Regions from separate parts of the Homo sapiens genome. Here region 2 is linked to region 1. Evidence: fine-mapped QTL for protein levels in blood plasma. A gene starts in region 1. The other region holds a variant in brackets. All regions are shown on one strand. Distances are from middle to middle. Region 1 holds the start of NPC2 (NPC intracellular cholesterol transporter 2). Region 2 overlaps SYNDIG1L (synapse differentiation inducing 1 like).

What was found. PIP is the posterior inclusion probability: the model's chance that the variant is causal. The UK Biobank Pharma Proteomics Project read protein levels with antibody pairs (Olink). The fine-mapping took linkage between variants from a reference panel, not from the people measured, so its PIPs are less certain.
Region 2: its variant is fine-mapped to the plasma level of the NPC2 protein (UK Biobank, PIP above 0.99).

Annotation. Positions count from the first base shown.
Region 1 is chr14:74,486,614-74,494,825 of GRCh38, forward strand. It overlaps NPC2 (NPC intracellular cholesterol transporter 2), which reads right to left and starts at 6,692. Exons shown (of 5, transcript NM_006432.5): 1 at 6,580-6,692. The coding sequence starts at 6,661. It overlaps ISCA2 (iron-sulfur cluster assembly 2), which reads left to right and starts at 7,152. Exons shown (of 4, transcript NM_194279.4): 1 at 7,152-7,232; 2 at 7,437-7,539; 3 at 7,662-7,777. The coding sequence starts at 7,162. RefSeq lists enhancers at 1,177-2,376, 7,155-7,234 and silencers at 6,445-6,504, 6,675-6,954.
Region 2 is chr14:74,397,066-74,407,784 of GRCh38, forward strand. It overlaps SYNDIG1L (synapse differentiation inducing 1 like), which reads right to left. Exons shown (of 4, transcript NM_001105579.2): 4 at 8,834-10,628. The coding sequence ends at 10,470. Among named protein-coding and RNA genes, the nearest start is that of SYNDIG1L, 24 kb to the right of the region's middle. RefSeq lists enhancers at 4,487-5,396, 4,614-4,943, 10,073-10,574. The variant A/G (reference allele first, on the strand shown) is at 8,699.

The DNA of each region.
Region 1 (8,212 bases):
ATTCATCTTGCTGCTAAAATCATAGCCTTTAATTCAGATGATAAAGAAGCTAGTTGGTTTTTTGATCAAGAGAAAGTTAATATTTGTCAAACTAAATAATATCAAGACCATATCCATAAATGATCATATTAAAGGAATTAAACTTCAATCAGAGAAATTCCAAACATTCCTAGAGTCTTATCTCGCATTCTTAATGGTAAGGGTCACAGTTTAAACTTAAACCTTGAAGACGTTTGCTTCAACCTTCCTTTGGATGAAAATATTCCTATTTTCCCTTTCTTTTTCTAGCATATAGATTAGCATGTAAATCTGATGAAAGTTGTTCACTACAGGAACAACTACATTTTTTTTTTTTTTGAGATGGAGTCTTGCTCTGTCACCAGGTTGGAGTGCAGTGGCACAGTCTCAGCTCACTGCAACCTCCACCCCCCGGGTTCAAACCATTCCCTGCCTCAGCCTCCTGAGTAGCTGGGACTACAGGCGAGTGCCATCATGCCCGGCTAAGTTTTTGTATTTTAGTAGAGACAGGGTTTCACTATGTTGGCCAGGATGGTCTTGATCTCCTGACCTCGTGGTCTGCCTGCCTAGGCCTCCCAAAGTGCTAGGATTACAGGCGTGAGTCATTGCACCCTCCCTGTTTTGTTTTTGTGGTTTTTTTTTGTTTTTTTTTTTTGAGACAGGGTCTCACTCTGTCACCCAGGCTAGATGCAATGGCACAATCTCAGCTCACTGCAGCCTCAACCGTCCCAGGCTCAAGTGATCCTCCTACTCCATCCTCCTGAGTAGCTAGAACAATAGGCATGCACCACCACACCCGGCTAATTTTTGTGTTTTGTAGAGACAGGGTTTCACCATGTTGCCCAGGCTGGTCTCAAACTCCTAGGCTCAAGCAATTTGCCCACCTTGGCCTCCCAAAGTCCTGGGATTACAGGCATGAGCCACCGCACCTGGCCAAAAACCGCACTTTATGCGGAAACAGCTAGAAAGCAAATGTAGAGCCTGAAACTCCGCGGAGGAAGATCAGAAATGAATTACAACATCTTTCTACCTCAAGTTCTACATGAGCAAACACTGATTGAGGGAGTCTGCTATTATTGCTTGGAAAGTCTGCCAGATCCCAAAACAGACTGAACCTTTCTTGAATCTGGCTTCAAGAGTTTTTAGTTCCTGAATCATTCATTTTTAGACTCTATGGAAATTGTACCTTGACTAGCAAGAATGAAGGAAAGCAGAGGCATCTGAAGAAAACATCTCACAACAATGGTATTTATCATCCTTGTTTTAGGGGTTAGAAACCAGAAGAGCAAAGATTACTGAGATTTGTCCAAGGTCACATTGCCTGGAAGGGGCAGATCGAAGACTCAATGGGTGGGCCTGACTTGGAAGCCCTTGTTACCGGAACCTGAAAGAAGCTTTAAATACGCAGCCATGTTGATGAATGGAAGGACACCCCAAGGAAATTTGCATCTGAGAACTACTTGAGGACTCTGGATGAAGGTCTGTCTCAAACTCAACTTTTCAGGTTTCTTAATTCAGCATCGCCTCTTTGCCCCTCACCATGATTCTCTTTCTATCGTAGAGGTTCAACCCCTATATCCTCTGTGATTTTCAGTGATGAAGTATCTTCTATCCAGATTTTGTACCCTTTCTCCCAAACTGCTGGTAAATCCTTTGCCCAGTATTTTGTCTTCCTGGAATCCCTTCTTTCTTTCACCCCAACTTGACTTCCTAGAGAAATAAGCAGCACTATTAAAGGTATAGGTAAAACGATGAAAAGTGTCAGAATATCAGTCTTGGCTTTTAAAATTAGGCTGATTCAAGGGTGGGCATGGTGGCTCATGCCTATAATCCCAGCACTTTGGGAGGCCAAGGCAGGTGGATCAAGAGGTTAAGAGTTCGAGACCAGCCTGACCAACATGGTGAAACCTCGTCTCTAATAAAAATACAAAAATTAGCCAGGTATGGTGGTGCTCACCTGTAATCCCAGCTACTCAGGAGGCTGAGGCAGGAGAATCGCTTGAACTGGGGAGGCAGAGGTTGCAGTGAGCCGAGATTGCGCCACTGCACTCCAGCCTGGGTGACAGAGCAAGACTCTGTCTCAAAAAATAAAATAAAATAAAATAAGACTGATTCCAGAAGCCTACTCACTTCCGAGTAAGCAGACTATGGAATTTAAGAGGAACTACCACTTAACACTGAACAGAGGAGTGACCCTAAACAGAAAAACCACCTACCATCTCTGAACTAGGAATGACCCTTAAGAGAGGAACTACCTCCCACTTCTGAATTGGGAACTGCACCATTTTCACTGCACTTCTGCAGTTTCTTCAATGATTTAGTCCTGTTCTTTAAGGCCCACTTATGAGTCATGAAATATTTTGGCTCCAAAAACAACAGGAAGTACCTTAAATCTTGACTAAGGTTGTTAAGATCTGGATTTTTTCCAAGAATCAAGGGGATGAAGAGGAGTACAGAGGTTAAGGTCTTTATAGTTTCAGTACAAGCTTAGGGCACAAGTTAAGCTTAACTCCAAATAGCACTGACTCACACAGCCAAGATGGCAGAAGTGCCAGCTGCATTAAAGAAGAATACTGCTACCTGAGTCTGGGTTTCATTTCCTCTGAAATATTAACTTGGCCTAGGTCTATATAGCTGCTGGGAATGATACACTTGCAAATACTGCATATGTTAAAAACATAAGGATGAGACCTAAGAAGGTACTAGAAAGAGTCAGAAATAGGATTTATCCCTGGGAATCCTCAAAACAAATACATATTTTTCAAAATTAAAAAATTTAAGAAAAGAAATTGGATTCATCTGACTTGTCCAGGTTGTTTCTAAGTAGTTTCAAAAACTGATTTTAAGCACACATCTGCAATCTACAGATGTATACTCGATTTTGGGAACCTGCGTTCTTAAAATAAGTGTGTGTGTGTGTGTCTGTGTGTGTATGTATGTATTTTAATCTCAGTCTAACCAAGGACAAAAGTACTTGTATACAATAAATGCTTGACCAAAAAAGGTTTAAATAAAGCCTTTAAAAATCCCATTTCCTCCTGCCCCAGAGACTGGGCAGTTGAATGGGAGAGAATGCAGGTGAACTGCCTGATAACAGTGCCTGTAACAGGGTAAGTTAAGTTCTGCCATTCAGCCATCATTGCTGAGAGGCAGACTCTGGTGCCGGATGCCTGGGTTTGAAATCTCACTATCTCTGCTACTTACTGTATAGCCTCAAGGCAAGATACTTTACCTCTCTGGAGATAATGGTGTAGCTGAGCTAACACAAATACAGATCTTAGGTAAGTGTTTGGAACATAGTGATACATATATTTACTATTATTATCATATCTGGATTTAGTCCATGAGTTTAATCTAGAATAGCTGCTCCTGGGTAGGTTAGCAAGTTCCCTTCTGACACAAAAACTGGACCTCTCACCTCAAATATACTTTGTGGATAGAAATTATGTTTCTAGCCAATAGGATGGACTCTTTCTGTCTCAAAAGTGGAATGCATGAAGACAGAGGCAAACTGCAGGTTGAGAGTACATTATCTGCTATGCAGTCAGTCACCAGATTAGCTCAGTACTATAAAAGTATGATATGAACTCAGAAATCTAAGTAGATGTTCTTTGCTGCCTGTACCTACCCTTGGGTGGAACAGTCTCTTTAACTATCATCACACTGACCAACACTGCTCCAGCTAGGTCAGTAAATAGTACCTTGCAGTCCTTTATCCCTCAGCTTGCTTCTCCATCATTGCAAAGTTCTTAAACTGCACACACTCTTAAGCATCCAAAACAGTTTGAGAAACACTCTCTTCCACTCCAACCCATTTTTGGTGAATAGGGAAAAAAGAAATCCCGAACTTCAATCAACAATCTATTGAAAATCAGTGCTAATGTTAAGGCTTTCAATGTCCAGCTTCCACCTGCTTCTTTCAAGGCTGAGTCACATAATCTAGTAGGAAGTAAGTAAAGGGTAGTACTTATAGCTCTTTCATCCAGTTTTCTGATGACAAGAGGTTCTTAGACTTCCAGTGTCAATAGAACAAACTCCTCTGTTCTAACCAGCAAACATTACAAAATTAGTTTGCTTGGTCCACTTTCTCACTTGAGGAAATCCCACGCCAGGGAAGGTGGGTGTAGAGTGGAACACAAAAATCTTTGATGTGGGCACTGAAGTCTTTATATCATATTTCCCAATTCAAAAGTAAATTATAAATCTGTAACTGAAACCCTTCTTCCCTTTAAAAGCTTCTTCCCATAGGTGTACTCCTGCTTTTTCAAATAAGTAGAATAATTTCTGGATTTATTTCCCTTCTTTTTTTGGAAACCCAAAGTGGCTCACAAAGACCCACGGTTTCCTACCACTTACTGGGTGTGAGATCTTGGGCAAGTTACTCTATGTGCTTCGCTTTCCTCATCTGTAAGACAGCTTGTGAGGATGGAATGAGTTATTTTATTTTATTTTATTTTTTTGAGACGGAGTCTTGCTCTGTCGCCAGGCTGGAGTGCAGTGGCGTGATCTTGGCTCACTGTAACCTCCACCTCCCGGGTTCAAGCGATTCTCCTGCCTCAGCCTCCCGAGTAGCTGGGACTACAGGTGCACACTACCATGCCCAGCTAATTTTTGTATTTTTAGTAGAGATGGGGTTTCACCATGTTGGCCAGGATGGTCTCAATCTCTTGACCTCGTGATCTGCCCGTCTTGGCCTCCCAAAGTGCTGGGATTACAGGTGTGAGCCACTGTGCCTGGCCGGAATGAGTTATTAAAATTAATAGTGTCTTCATCCAAACGCTGGCTACTAAGTTTAATGGAGGGAAAGGCAGTAATTTGAAGCGATAATAGCTTTCAAGTGCCAGTCTCCTAAATCAATGGAATAGCATTTAAGTGTTAATCGGCCAGCACTCCATTCCTTAATCAATCCTGTCCCCTAATCCCCAACTTTGCTTTTGTCTCAACATGAATTTTTATGACATAGGGGAAAAAGATTTCCATCTATGTTTTCAACACATTTCATTGAGCAGTTACTATTACCTGGGCACTGGATATAAAGCAGCAAACTTATGAAACCGCCTTTGCAAAAATCCTGAGGAAATTAAGACAGTGAAAGAGATCAGGACTCACCTACCCATCTTCCTTCTAACCTCTAAACTGTCTTTGTTCATTCCTGGGTGTAGGCTGAACTAGTCTTGGAGAGGAATTTATAGTTTAAACTCTGAAACGAAATGGATAATAGCCCTTTCCTGAAAAACCCCTTCTTGCCTGGGGACCGGTCTGCCTTTGTAGGACTAACAAATTAGCTACGAGTTTAGGGGCCACGCCGCCTCTGGCTGTAAGAGTCTGAACCTCCCCAAATTGCTCCTGGTAATGATATCACTATTGTAAAACCTAAGGTCAGTGCTTGAGATATTTTGCAGATCCTGCATTCCGATGCAGCAAATGACACCACCCAGAGGTCAGCAAGAAGAACTCACTTCGACTCTCCTATGATTTTATCTTCAACCTGACCAATCAGCACTCCCCACTTTCCAAGCCCATACCCGCCAAATTATCCTTAAAAACTCTGATCCCCGAATGCTCGGGGAGACTGATCTGAGTAACAATAAAACTCCGGCCTCCCCCACAGCCGGCTCTGCGTGAATTACTCTTTTCGCCACTGCAAATCCCATCTTGATAAATCCGCTCTGTCTAGGCAATGCGCAAGGTGAACCCCTTGGGCGGTTACACTTACTCTGGCTCCCCATTCTGCTGCGTGACTTTAGGTAGGCTACCCAACATCCCTGGAATTCAATGATTGATTATACGATCTCCGTGCTTCCTTTCCACTCATAGATCTTACAAAGTCAGTTTCATGCCTCTTTCATTGACAGTTCTATCTCTCTATCTCCACCTCTGAACAACATTGCTCGAGTTTCTGTTCCGACAATTCTATAGACTCGACTCAATGAAGGCACTCAGAATTTCTACCACCTGTTGTATTTTCCAACAAAGATTCCAACCACAGCGGCGAGAGGGAGTTATGTATCACAAGCTGTGATTAGAGACACAATGAGATTTATACAAGGAAAAACTGATTAAGAATCACAAGATTCCAAAGCCCAAAGGAAGTCCTATTTGTAACAATAAATGATGAAAAAGGGGAATTGACTTTTGACTTGTCAGCAAAAACGAAATTAAAAGAAAAGCAAAAGGAGTTGGAAGGGGGAGGCGGGATTCCAAGATACAAAGCATAAATAAAAAGAAGTTCTGTGCTCCACCCCTCCACCAGAGCTGGATACAGCCCTTCTGTTGTCCGCCCTACAAACTTTAGGAAACTTCAGCAAAAGGCCCACCTCCTGGAGTTCCCAGGAACCCCAAAACACGCGTTCTAAGGAAAGAAACAAAGTTGTGCGCGGTCGGGTTTCATGGAGGCCGGCGCCTTCTCCCCCGACCCAGCCCATTCCAGTTAGGTAGGGTCCAAGGCTCAGCCTGGCCGCCCGAGGGATCCGCCCAGCCCAGCCCCAGGGGTCTCAGCGCGGGGGTCCGGCGGGGCCTTCCACAGAGGGCGCGGGAACCTTGGGCGGGCCTGGGGCTCACCGCAGTCCTTGAACTGCACCGGTTCGGCCTGGGCAGCGGTGCTGAGCGCCAGGAGCAGGAATGTAGCTGCCAGGAAACGCATCGCGGATAACGAAGTTCCAAGCTCGGGAAAGAAGCAGCGGCCGCCCGCGGTCACAAGACAAACCTGTCGGGGCGGGCCCGGGGAGGAGCCCAGTCAGGCGACCTGTCACCAGTAACCACAGCTGAGGCCCGCCCGCGCCCCGCCCCCGGCTCCGGAAAGCCAGCTCCAGCCCTCTCAGGCCCAGAAGCCTGCAGTCTCCGCCCATGCCATCCCCTCAGAGGCCTGACCCGCCCGGACCCACCTCCGCCCCGCCCCGCCTCACTCCTCCCCGCCCCGTTCCTTCCCTTTAGAGCACCTCTCCGGCTTCCTGGGTGCGTCCCCGCCGCTGCCGTCTGGAGCATTCCTAGCCAATCAGACACCTTCTCCTCCCGCACTACCCAATAGGCATGTTGGGGGGGCGGGGCCTCCGTGAAGTCCCGGCCTCCTGTTCGTTCTCTCCGCCTCCCGAGGCCCCGGGTGAGAAACGGGGGAGACGCGAGGGGCGGAGCTTGTGGAGGAAGATGGCTGCCGCCTGGGGGTCGTCCCTAACGGCCGCGACGCAGAGAGCGGTCACTCCCTGGCCGAGGGGCAGGTACCAAGACTAGAAAGGCACCTGGAAAGGGTGTTTGGTTCTGCGCCTCTAGGACAAATGGGAAACTAAGGCCTGTGGGGGATGCGAGGGTTTGGTGGGAGGCCGTCCAGGTGGGGGTCGCCAGGTTTAGCGTGAGGCGCTCCAGGTCGAGGGTTGCAAGGTGCCCCTTCTGCTCCCGGGCTCACCCTCCTCCCTTGCGCGCAGGCTCCTCACGGCCTCCCTGGGACCCCAGGCGCGTCGGGAGGCGTCGTCCTCCAGCCCCGAGGCCGGCGAAGGGCAGATCCGCCTCACAGACAGTTGCGTCCAGGTAGGAGGCCGGACGCGGAGCGGCGGTACCCAGGCGATTGGCGGGAGCAGCGGGAACTGCTCTTCACTCAGCCCTTTAACTCCCGTTTCCCGCTATTCTTGATCCCCCTTCCTGCATTTCAGAGGCTTTTGGAAATCACCGAAGGGTCAGAATTCCTCAGGCTGCAAGTGGAGGGAGGTGGATGCTCCGGATTCCAATACAAATTTTCACTGGATACAGTTATCAACCCCGACGACAGGCAAGGAGGAAGGGGTGGGCCCCCAAAGGAGGTACAGGAGGGACAAAAGTGTCTCCAGTTTAAGGTGCACTTTTATTCCAAATTTAAAGGGTTTACCTGGGATGGTTAACACCGCCCGTCTCACAGTGAGGATGCAGTAAAGGTTTGTTGTTCTGAATCAAAGTAACTAAGTTATAGGAGCAAAATTGATCTGCCCAGGTCCATTGGGTAGTCGGTAGAAAGTCAGGCCGGACTAGATTCCAGGCTTAAGTCCCTACACGTTTCCCAGTATTTATTCCATTGAATCATTTTGCCTCAAAGAAAATCAGCACCTGTTAAAGGTAATGGGGAAGCTCCCTCTGTACTTTAGAAAACAGAGGATGTGCACCTCTGGGCTCAGGGGGTGTCTTTTTTGTGTTTGCGATACTCCTTAATGCCTTCCTCCTGTCTTTTCAG
Region 2 (10,719 bases), 88 kb before region 1:
CCAAGAAGGAAAGGAAAAGTATTTCAGGCAGAAGAAGTTGCATATGCAAAGGCCCTGCAAGTGTGAAGGGCTGAAGGAAGGCAGACATGGTGAGGTGCAGGGAGCTTGGGTTGTGGTGTGAAGTGGCAGGGGCTCATAAGCAGGTTAGTTTGGTTTTTTATCTAAGAGAAATAGATGTCCTTTGAAAGCTTTAATCAAGGGAGGATGACTCGACCAAATTTGCCTTCAGGAAAATTCAATGTAGCTAAAAAGAGGCCAGGGAGGAGGCAGGGAGAACATTTCAGAGGGTTGCTTTTTTTTCCTCCCCGCATTAAAATCATCCTCGAAAAGAGACTGGGCAGATTTATAATAGCATTAGAATATTTAAAACATGTAATACATTTGTTTAACTTCAAACACATTTCAGCATTCTCAACATACAAAAAATAACAGAACATTACAAATCGTGTTTAAATACAGACGGTTCTTGAACTTTCATTGACGTGATGTCTCTTGCTTTGCTGATAATGAGGAGTTCTACAGTTTGTTTAAAAACAGTTTTCTGCTGGGCGTGGTGGCTCATGCCTATAATCCTAGCACTTTGAGAGGCCGAGGTGGGCAAAGTGGGTGGATCACTTGAGCCCAGGTGTTCGAGACCAGCCTGGGCAACATGACAAAACCCTGTCTCTACAAAAAAATACAAAAATTAGCCTGGCATGGTGGCAGGTGCCTGTAGTCCCAGCTACTCAGGAGGCTGAGGTGGGAGGATCACCTGAGTCCAGGGGGTTAAAGCTGCAGTGAGTCGAGGTCACGCCACTGCACTCCAGCCTGGGTAACAGAGTGAGACCCTGTTTCAAAAAAAAAAAAAAAAGTTTAAAAATTACCACACTTAACTAAAACAAACAAACTAAACCCCCCAAACACTTCTCATGCCGGCTGACCCTCTTTGTCCACAGCTAAGAATGGCAGCAGAATGCTCCGTCACTATATGCAGAAACAAGACAACTTGAAGCTAAATGGAAGCCCTGCAGAGTCAACAGGTCCAGATTCACAGTGCACGCCCTGAGCTACAGCCCCTCCAAAAGGCATCTTCCCCCAGAGCCTCAATGCCAAGCAAGGAGCCGTCAAGAGTCTGCCTTGGTTGTTTTGTTCTTTTTACAAACCGTACAGATATACAATTGATAACTCAGGATTTCTAGTCAATAACCAGATAGTTAACACCACCTTATTAAAAAAAAAAAAGCCAGAAACATCTTTAAATGCCTTGTCACTCCAATAGCAAAGCGCACAGAATGAGAACACAAGAGTGCCTTTTCATTTTAAAAATGTTTGGAAATATGTACAACTTTGATAGCATTTCAGAGTGCACCAGACACCACTGCCGCTTCATGTATACCACTGACAATTTCTAGAGCACTTTGAGAGGCTACAATATGATCATGATCAAATTTTGTAATTAAACCTGATAAGGGCAACAGACACTACTTCTCAAATAAGAGATGTGTCAATTACAGCGCTCCCCTACTCTAAGGCAGGGGTGTCCGATCTTTTGGCTTCCCCGGGCCACACTAGAAGAAGAATTGCCTTAGGCCACACATGAAATACACTAATAATAACGATAGCTGATGAGCTAAACACACGTGCGTGCACACACACACACACTGACACACACTTCATAATGTTTCAAGAAAGTTTACGAATTTGTGTTGGGCAGCATTCAAAGCTGTCCTGGGCTGTGTAGGCTACAGGTTGGACAAGCTTGCTCTAAGGTACTTACAAGGAAACAGATAAACTATGTTTAAAATTTCTTGCCAGGTGTGGTGGCTCACGCCTGTAATTCCAGCACTTCAGGACTTTGGGAGGCCGAGGTGGGGGGATCACTTGAGGTTGGGAATTCGAGACCAGCCTGGCCAACATGGCGAAACCCCGTCTCTACTGAAAATACAAAAATTAGCTGAGTGTGGTGGCATGCGCCTTTAGTCCTAGCTACTTGGGAGGCTGATGCATGAGAATCACTTGAATCTGGGAGGCAGAGGTTGCAGTGAGCAGAGATTGTGCCACTGTACTCCAGCCTGGGAGACAGAGCAAGATTCTGTCTCAAAACAAAACAAAACAAACACATAGCATAAAATTTACCATCTTACCCATTTTAAGTGTACGGTTCAGTACAATTAAGTACATGCATGTTGTTTTGCAACAGATCTCTAGAACTTTCTCAATTTGCAAAGCTGACACTCTATGCCCATTAAACAAATCCCAGTTTTTCCCTCCCCCAGCTCCTGGCAATCACCATTCTTCTTTCTCTTTCTAGGAATGTGACTACCCGAGGTACCTCACATAAATGGAATCATCCAGTATTTGTTCTTTGGAGACTGGCTTATTTCACTTAGCCTGATCTCCTTAAAGTTCATCCATGTTGCATCATGTGATAGGTCATTTAGGAGGTTTTGCAGGAGTCTGAGTAAGAGCTGATGGGGGCTTGGACTAGGGCTTGGAGATAGAGATAGCAGGAAATAGAGTCGGGGAGATTGGGGAGTGGTAGAGTCACAGGACTTGGTGAAGGATGGGAAAGTGCTCCTGTTTCTGGCCTTGGTCTTCAGAGGTGACTGTGGACAGGCCAGTGGTACCCAGACTTGTAGGCTCCTTTGGACAATGGGGGTTGGGGGTGACCCAGGGGCTAAGTTGGGTGCAGAGGAAACCAAGGAAGAACCTCTTCTCTATCCTCAGCCCACAGCCTGGGGGAGACCAGAGGAGGAGAGCAGTGAGCAGCTGCTCTGGCTTCTTTGTTCCCCTTGTTTATTCTTCCTACAGAGCACAGACCTTGCAGCACCAGAAGGGTGGTCTTTATGGCATCCCTGATGAAAGAGGGGAGGAGGTGGGTAAAGTTCTGTGCTGTGTCCCTTTGCAGATACCACCAGGCTGGGCACCCCACGGGCTCATACTGCTCTTTCTGGTCTCTTTGATCGTCCTCGGAATTGTAAAGTCCTTGCCACCTAGAGACTTCCTCCCTGCTCCCATCTACCCCAAGATGTGGATGATTTTCCCATTGAAGAGGAAATTAAAGTGGAAAGAACCTTGCCCCGACTCCCTCCAGCCTGGAGGCAAGTCACTTCTTTCCCAGTGATGTCAACAGTGAACAAGGGTCGAGTGTCTGTGGAAGGCAGTCCCCACGTCAGACCTGGGATGCCCTGAGCAAACACGAGCTCCACCCTCAGAAAAGCAGATGTCTAGATGTGGCCGTCATGTCGATATGAACAGGTGTAGCGGTGGTTCACGAAAGAGGGTGGCTAGTTCTACCTGGTGTTGGGGCTGGGGTGAGTTGACAGAAACAGCTGCCGAGAAAATGAGGTTTTCTTGAGACGTGTCTTGGAAAATTATTTTTATCAGTTTGGAGGAAAAGAATCTCAGGGTGTGGAGGCAGATACCAGAATTACAGGCAGGGGGAGCAGCCTAAACAAAGGCAGCGAGACGGGAAACAGGCCCTGCCTTCAGCTTGCTGCCAGCCGAGATCTGCCCAGAGACCAGCAGGGACCAGAGCTATCAGGACTTTGGCTATTATCTCTGGCTATGGAAGGGATGGGGCTGAGGGAGGTGACACACTTCTGGCAGGGAAGCCATTTAAATGGTGGTCAGCTGGAGATAATTTTAAAGAAATTCCATATAGCACTTACGAGACACTCAATTTTGCGGGAGCCATACAAGTGTTAATTCATGTAATATTCACAGTCATCTTAACGGGGTCAGTCACCATCACGATCCCCGTTTTCCAGATGAGAAAACACCAAGCAACATCTTACCCGAAGTTGCACAGAGGCTGGGGATGGGATTTGAACTGGGTGGTGGGCTCCCCTCTTCTCTGCTGTTAACCACTGGGCTGTGCTCTGGGCCAGCCAGCTCTGAGCGCAAGTGTTAGGGACAGGGCTGGCGGAGGTTAATGAGGGAAAATGGCCAGGAGTTGGCTTCAGGAAGGGAGGCAGTGGGTGAGGGTGGAGCCACAGCAGGCTCCCAGAGGACGAGGCACCATTCACTGATCTGTGGAACTGGGAAAGGCCTCGAGGTCCTCAGTCTTCCTGTCTGTGAAATGGGGACAAGAACACCAGCCTCAGTGGTAGAAAGAGTGGTGTGAAGGTCCTTTGTGCACCCAGGGTGCTCTGTCAACGTAGCCTGGCCCTGCTGCCTCACCCCAGCCCTGCCCACTGGTGCAAGCACACTCACTGTCCCCTTTGTCCCCTTCTGGCTGCCTCTGAGGGATCCTGCCCCCTGGGAGTTTCTTTCTCTGTCATTTCCTGGAGGAGCTAGAACTGGCTTTGAAACCTGCCTGGCTCTTTAGTGGGAGAGAGGTAAAAGCAGTTCAAGGGATGTGGGCTGGAAGTATTTGGAAATGCAGATGGGCCACACGAGCACCTTTTATTTTTGTTCAGAACATCTGAGTCTCCCCGTGGGGACTCCCCCGCCCAGAGTAGCTCCTCCCCCCATGGCAGAGAGGATGAGAGAGCACCCGGGGGCTGCCATGAGCTCAGGGCAGGCAAAAGCAAGGCTGTCGCTCTCCTGCCCCACCCCTACCAAGCCACCAAAAATAGAAGGGCCAAGGTGTCAGCCCCAGGGAGGGGCCAGCCGGGGAAGCCTTTGAAGCCGGAAACAGCCGGGGAAGGAAGGCTGAGAGAAGCAAGTTTGTTAATATTCACTGGGCAGCAGCGGCAGTTGTCCCTGGGTTTTCTGTTTCCAAGGCAAGCAGACATCACCAGCCTAGCTCAGCAACTCCAGGGCCTGTGAGGCAAGGCCTGGGCTTGGCTCGTGACTTGCTGTGTGACACTGGGCAACTGGCAACCCTTTCTGGGTCTCTGTTGTCTCATCTGTAGCATGAGGGATTGTGACTAGATCACCTCCCGGGTTCCTTCCTGCTGCAGCGTTCCAGGACTCACACCTTTGGCCACTGACCCCTGCCCCACCTTCTGAGTGGGGTTCAGGGACTGTGCTGAGTCTGTCTCTGGGAAGCAGCAGGGTGCAGGGGCACACTGATGAGTGGTGCATGTGCCCAGGGGCAACATCAGAGCCGTTTAGCCACCAGGGCAGTCAGGCATGGACAGACGCATTTGGGAGGGGGCGGGGCCCTGTGTCAGCTGTTAACACTTCAGTTCCTGAAGCAGAGAAGTCTGGAGTTCTGGGGAGGGGCCAGGGAGGCAGGAGAGGGAAACACTGGGAGGGTTTAGGGCTTGGCCTGTTTATCAACTACTGTGGAAGTATTTTCACTGTTCTGACAATCCCTGCAACTATGTCCATGGACCTGCTGTCTATCCGCCCTGTTCATCGGGAGGAAGAGATGGAGAAGGCTGCCGGGGTTCTGGGAGTGGGTTTCTAGTCCTTCCCACCATCGGAAAAATTCTTGTCACTCGGAGTGGGGCCAGGTCACTGTTTCCCCTGGGTCCAGCCCCCAGGACCCCTGGCCTGCCACCCTTAGGACACCCCTTCTTCCCTGGGGCTGGGGAACAGTGAAGGGAGGCTCTCCTCCCACTCCTTTGCCCACAGCCCCCGTGGCTCCACTTGCCCAGCAGCTGTCCTGGACCACAGGCCAGGTGGCCTCAGTTCCTGGCTCCTCTGTGGCTGCCCCCTCTGCCATCTGCCCACCCCCACACAGGGCCCATTTGGCTACCCTCCCTTATATCCCACATCCCCTAGGTGAGGCCCTTTTCCATCCCATTCCAGCCTGGCCTGTAGGGGAGAAAGTTGAGATGGGGTTGGAGGGTGGGGTCAGCCAGAGCAGGTCCAGCATCAGGGCAGCTGCGGGGACCGGGGCTGGGTTCTTGGTGCAGGGCCCCCACTCTGCTGGCTGCCCCGACTTCCCTGTGCAGCAATTTCAGTTTCTATTTTGAACAGTTTGGGTTGGTTGCTTCTCTGTCTTCCTGCTGGGTGTTTATAGTGAGGAAAATAATTGGTAATATTTGCACAGATGTGCTGGCATTGCAGCTCGTCACGGGCACCTTTACCCAGGGGACCCTCCCTGCCCCCAGCCTGTCTCTGCCAGCCTGAGGAACCAGCCTGAAGGGGAGTAGCTGAAGCCCCTATGCCTCCCAGGGGCCTCAGGCAGCCAGACGCAGGCAGAGCTGGGAAGCAGGAGGCCTCAAGTGCCCCAGGCATGCCAGAGGCGGCCCTAAGCTGGAAGGGGGTGGGTGGGTGTCTGTGCTCCAGGGACTGATCAGGACAAGCCTGGGCTCCAAAGGATGGATCCTTTCTAGGGGCTGCATGAGGGAGGCCCCAAGGGCTTCGTTTCTTATTCCATTTTCTCCTACAGAGCCTGAATTTGCAGCTGAGGGTAGGGATGGGGTGAAAAGGAGAGGGGCAGGTCCAGGGTTGAAAATAGAAAATTGTGGCCAGGCGCTGTGGCTCACACCTGTAATCCCAGCACTTTGGGAGTCCGAGGCAGACAGATCACCTGAGGTCAGGAGTTCCAGACCAGCCTGACCAACATGGTGAAATCCCATCTCTACTAAAAATACAAAATTAGCTGGGTGTGGTGGCATGTGCCTGTAATCCCAGATACTCGGGAGGCTGAGGCAGGAGAATCACGTGAACCTGGGATCCAGAGGTTGTAGTGAGCCGAGATCGCACCATTGCACTCCAGCCTCGGCGACAAGAGTGAAACTCCATCCCCCCACCCGCAAAAAAAAGATAGAAAATTGTTTGGCTTCTCTTTCCCCTTCTCAAAGCCTGGAACAGCATTTCAGAGGGCTGGCAAGGAGGTGAGAATTGTGGACCATGAGGCTGCCCGCCCAGCCCAAGCAGGGCATGGACCAGGGTGCATGCTGCCCAGTGCCCTTTCCGGGGCCCCAGCCAGGCTGGTGATGGGTGGGACCACAGCGCAGGCAGGGCCAGGTGAGACTCCTCAGCCACCATGCCTCCTTCTCTTCCTCCTTTTTTAAAAATAATCTCTCTCTCTCTCTCTTTTTTTTTTTTTTGACAGGGTCTCACTGTCACCTAGGCAGGAGTACAGTAGTGTGGTCATGGCTCACTGCAGCCTCAATCTCCCAGGCTCAAACGATCCTCCTGCCTCAGCCTCCTATGTAGTAGTGGGACCACAGGCATGCACCATCATCCATCACGACCAGCTAGTTTTTAAATTTTTTTTGTGGAAATGGGGTCTCACTATGTTGCCCAGGCTGGTCTTGAACTCCTGGGCTCAAGCAATCCTCCTGTCTCAGCCTCCCAAAGTGCTGGGATTACAGGTGTGAGCCTCCTTCTTCACCTCTTGTATGTGCACATGGTGCATGTGTGTGTGTGTGTATGTGCATACAGCTTTTGTGCATGTGTGGGCTGTGCCTGTGTACATGTGCGTGTGTGTGCACAAAGGTTTGCGTGGTGTGTGGCTGTGCCTATGTGTATGTGTATGCCTGTGTGTGGGTACATGTATGTGCAAGTGTGTGCATATATATGGAAGATGTACATGTGCGTGTGAACGTGCATGCTGTGTGCCGGGGTTTGGCTTCTCCCAGAAGCCAACCCTGAGACAAGGGTTCAATTGTAGGCGGTTTATTGGGGGATGATCCCAGGAAGCACAGTTGGGGAGTAGGGAAGGAGGCAGGGTGAGGAAATCAGCCAATGAAGGGCATGTATCAAGCAGAGTGCTGCTGCAGGCAACTGAGCTCAGGCCCACTGGGGAGCCCAGGGAACCTGTGTAGAACACGACTGAAGCAGCCTTCAGTGTGAAGAGGTGAATGCAGAGGGGATCTAGGTGGGCACCAGGGCGTCTGCTGCTGGGTGGGTGGGTGTGGTGGACGTGGTGATATGCCACTCAGGATCCCTTCAGGAAGGATGGACAGCTTTCCAGCTGCTGCAGGTCCTGGCAGCAAACAGTCTTCAGGGCAAATGTTTTTGTGTTGTCTCAGCTGAAGACCACTGCCTTGCCTGAGGTCACACCCTCTTTCTGGGTGGCCCACATCTAATGACTGGTCAATGAGGGAGTGGAAAGACCTGGCTCTTCACCCCAATTTGGGTCAACTCTGGCTCCCCTGTGGGTTGGCCCAGCCTGTCATTCAGGACTGCATTGCAGCCTGACCTCTCCCTCTGCCCAGATCTGCCTCCCTCTCCATGCTTTTACAAACGTTATCCCAACAGCAGCCCCTCATATCCATCTCACAGGCTAATCTCTGTTTCTGGGGTTCGCAACCCATGCAGCATGTGTGTGTGCATACGTGCACAGCTGTGTCTTACAAGTAGGTGCACACGTGGATATGGGATGTGCATAACCTGCCTCCCCAGGGCCCTCCATCCAAGTGACCTAGAGGCCAGGCCAGTCCCTGTGCTGGCCCAGGCAGGCTCCTGGGGGCTCAGGTCTGAGAGGATATTGGAGATTTGGTGCTGAGCTGGGGCCTGAGGCAGGCAGAGATGCCTTCCTCTCCACATGGTCCAGGAGCGGCTCCTGGGATGGAAGAGATGGTGAAGGAGCAGGCAGCAGGGGCGTGGACTCCTTGGCCCCCTCACACCCTGTATCCACCCTTGGTAGCTCCAGGCAGCTCCATGGAGCCTCAGTCACCTTGGCTCACATCCCTTCCTCCCTGTCCTCCAAGGCTCTTGAGCCTAGAAGGGCTTTTTTTCCAGGCACGGATCTTGCTTTGGCTTGCCTAGAGCAAGCCAAATGCAGGCCATCACTCTACAGCCAGACTACTCCAAGCAGAGGAATCCTGGGATGGTGCAGACACTCTGGCCACCACTCCTCCTAAGGCCC[A/G]TACGTGGGCTTGTCCTCTCCGCAGGCTGCCAGGGGTCAGAGCAGCAGACATAGCAACAGGTCAGTCTTGGAGAAGAATGGGATTCAGGCAAAGGCGGGGCAGGTAGCACAGCAAGATACCTAGAGGGCACCAGGTGTTACAGAAACATTTATTACAAGGATAAATCAGTACAATAATGGGACCTTAAAACTGCTGTGATGCAGGAGTGGAGGGCTGGGCAGTGCCCGAGGCAGGGGAGGACAGTGGGACAAGGGATGCTCAGTGGTGGAGCCACAGCCCTGGGCTCTGGATGGGGCATGGGAATGACCAGGTTCCCACATCATGCACAGCAGGGGCCTGTAGCTTGAGTCCAGACAGGCCTGCCCACATTGGTGCTGCCCCCCGCCTACCTGGAGATGTCTCTAAAATTCTGGATGTGCCCTAGTGGCTGAGGGTGTTGAGACTGGCACTGAGCAGAGATATCAGTGAAGATGCCCCAGGGGTAACCAGGTACCCACCACTGACCCCCTAGCATTCAGAGATGGGAAAACATCATTGGTCTTTGAGAGACAGGTGTGACGTTCCTCCTTGAGTTGGCAGAACCCTTAGGAATGGCTGTAGTTTGGCTCCAGCCCAGATGTTCCAGGCAGAATCCAAACAGCCTGGAAGCTTCCCATGGAAGGTTCCTGCCACATCCCTGCCTACAAATACAAAGAGTTATGTGACCAAATCCCTTAGATGAATTCTATTCATCCTAGGACTTGCTCAAGGGATACCTCCTCCAGGAAGCCTTCCTAAGCACCGCTGACTACTCAGCAGGCCATTCCTTCCCTGAGTCCCTTCCCTCATCTATACTCACTACTCCCTAGGGTCTCTCCTTGCTGCGTTTTCTGTAGGGCTGGACCTAGGGCCGTGCGCTCAGTGGCTGGTGAGCTGAGGGCACTCTCTGGGTCTAGTCTACTTGTGATGGCACCAGCTCACGGACCCCCAGGCAAAGCCCAGAAAAGGATGATAGGGGCGGGGAGTGGGGGGAGAGTAGGAAGAGTCATGTAGTACAGCAATATTTCAGGACCCTCTATTCTCTGTCATTGCAACTGCCTTTTGCACCCGCATGAAGAAGCTCCAAGAACCTGCCCTTGGTTCAGAGTTTACATACCGAGGCTCCTCTTCCCTATCTAGAATCTACAGTGCCTCACAAGCCCATGCAGAGATAAGCACCCTCTAGAATCAGAGACAGCAAGAGGCCCCCTTGCCTCCACGTATTTCCTTCTTGGCCTGCTGAGGTCTGGGCATGATGGGGCCAGACAGTGGAGTTGGGGGAAGCTCAGGCTGTCCCCAGGTGAAGATCCCTGTGGGCTGAAAGGATTGGGACGGGTCCCCTTGTGCTCTGGGCACCCCCTTTTCTCCCTGTAACCTCCTGCTCTTTCTCTGTGGGGAGGTTGGCAGGGTAGGTGGTGGGCTGGCTGTAGGGCAGGAGATCCTCTAGGGAATGGGCAGAATGGATGGAGCTAGGCCCTGCTGGGATGGCCTGGTGGGCAGCCCTGCCTTCTGTTTCCCGTCTGTAGCCTGGGTTAGAGAGTGGCGCCCCGGGCCCTGCTCTGGGGCTGGGAGCAGCGGGCAAGCAGAAGTGAAGGCTGAGCTCTGCAGGCTGTGGAATGGGGGTCTCCCCCTCAGCAAGCCACTCTCACGGGATCATCTTCAGGGGCCGGGCCTTTCCATAGGGTCTGCAACTCCAAGCCCCACTGCTTCCTCAGGTGGGCAGGGGAGTCAGGATGCAGGCCCTACTGGCTACTAGCCATGACCGTTCTGGGACATGTAAGCTGCCAGAGCCACCACCACAGCCACGTAGAGACCGGCCCCCACGGCGATGGCGAGTGTGGCTAGGAAGAGGGCCCGGCGGGAGGTGGTGCTGGCCAGGCGGAAGTCCCCTTTGGAGATGGCCTTGCTGGTCTAGGGAGAGAGACATGCTGATGAACAGGAGTGTCCCCACACCCAGCCAAACAGCCCAGCCTGCCAGGCCCCTGACCCCATCCTGCAGACG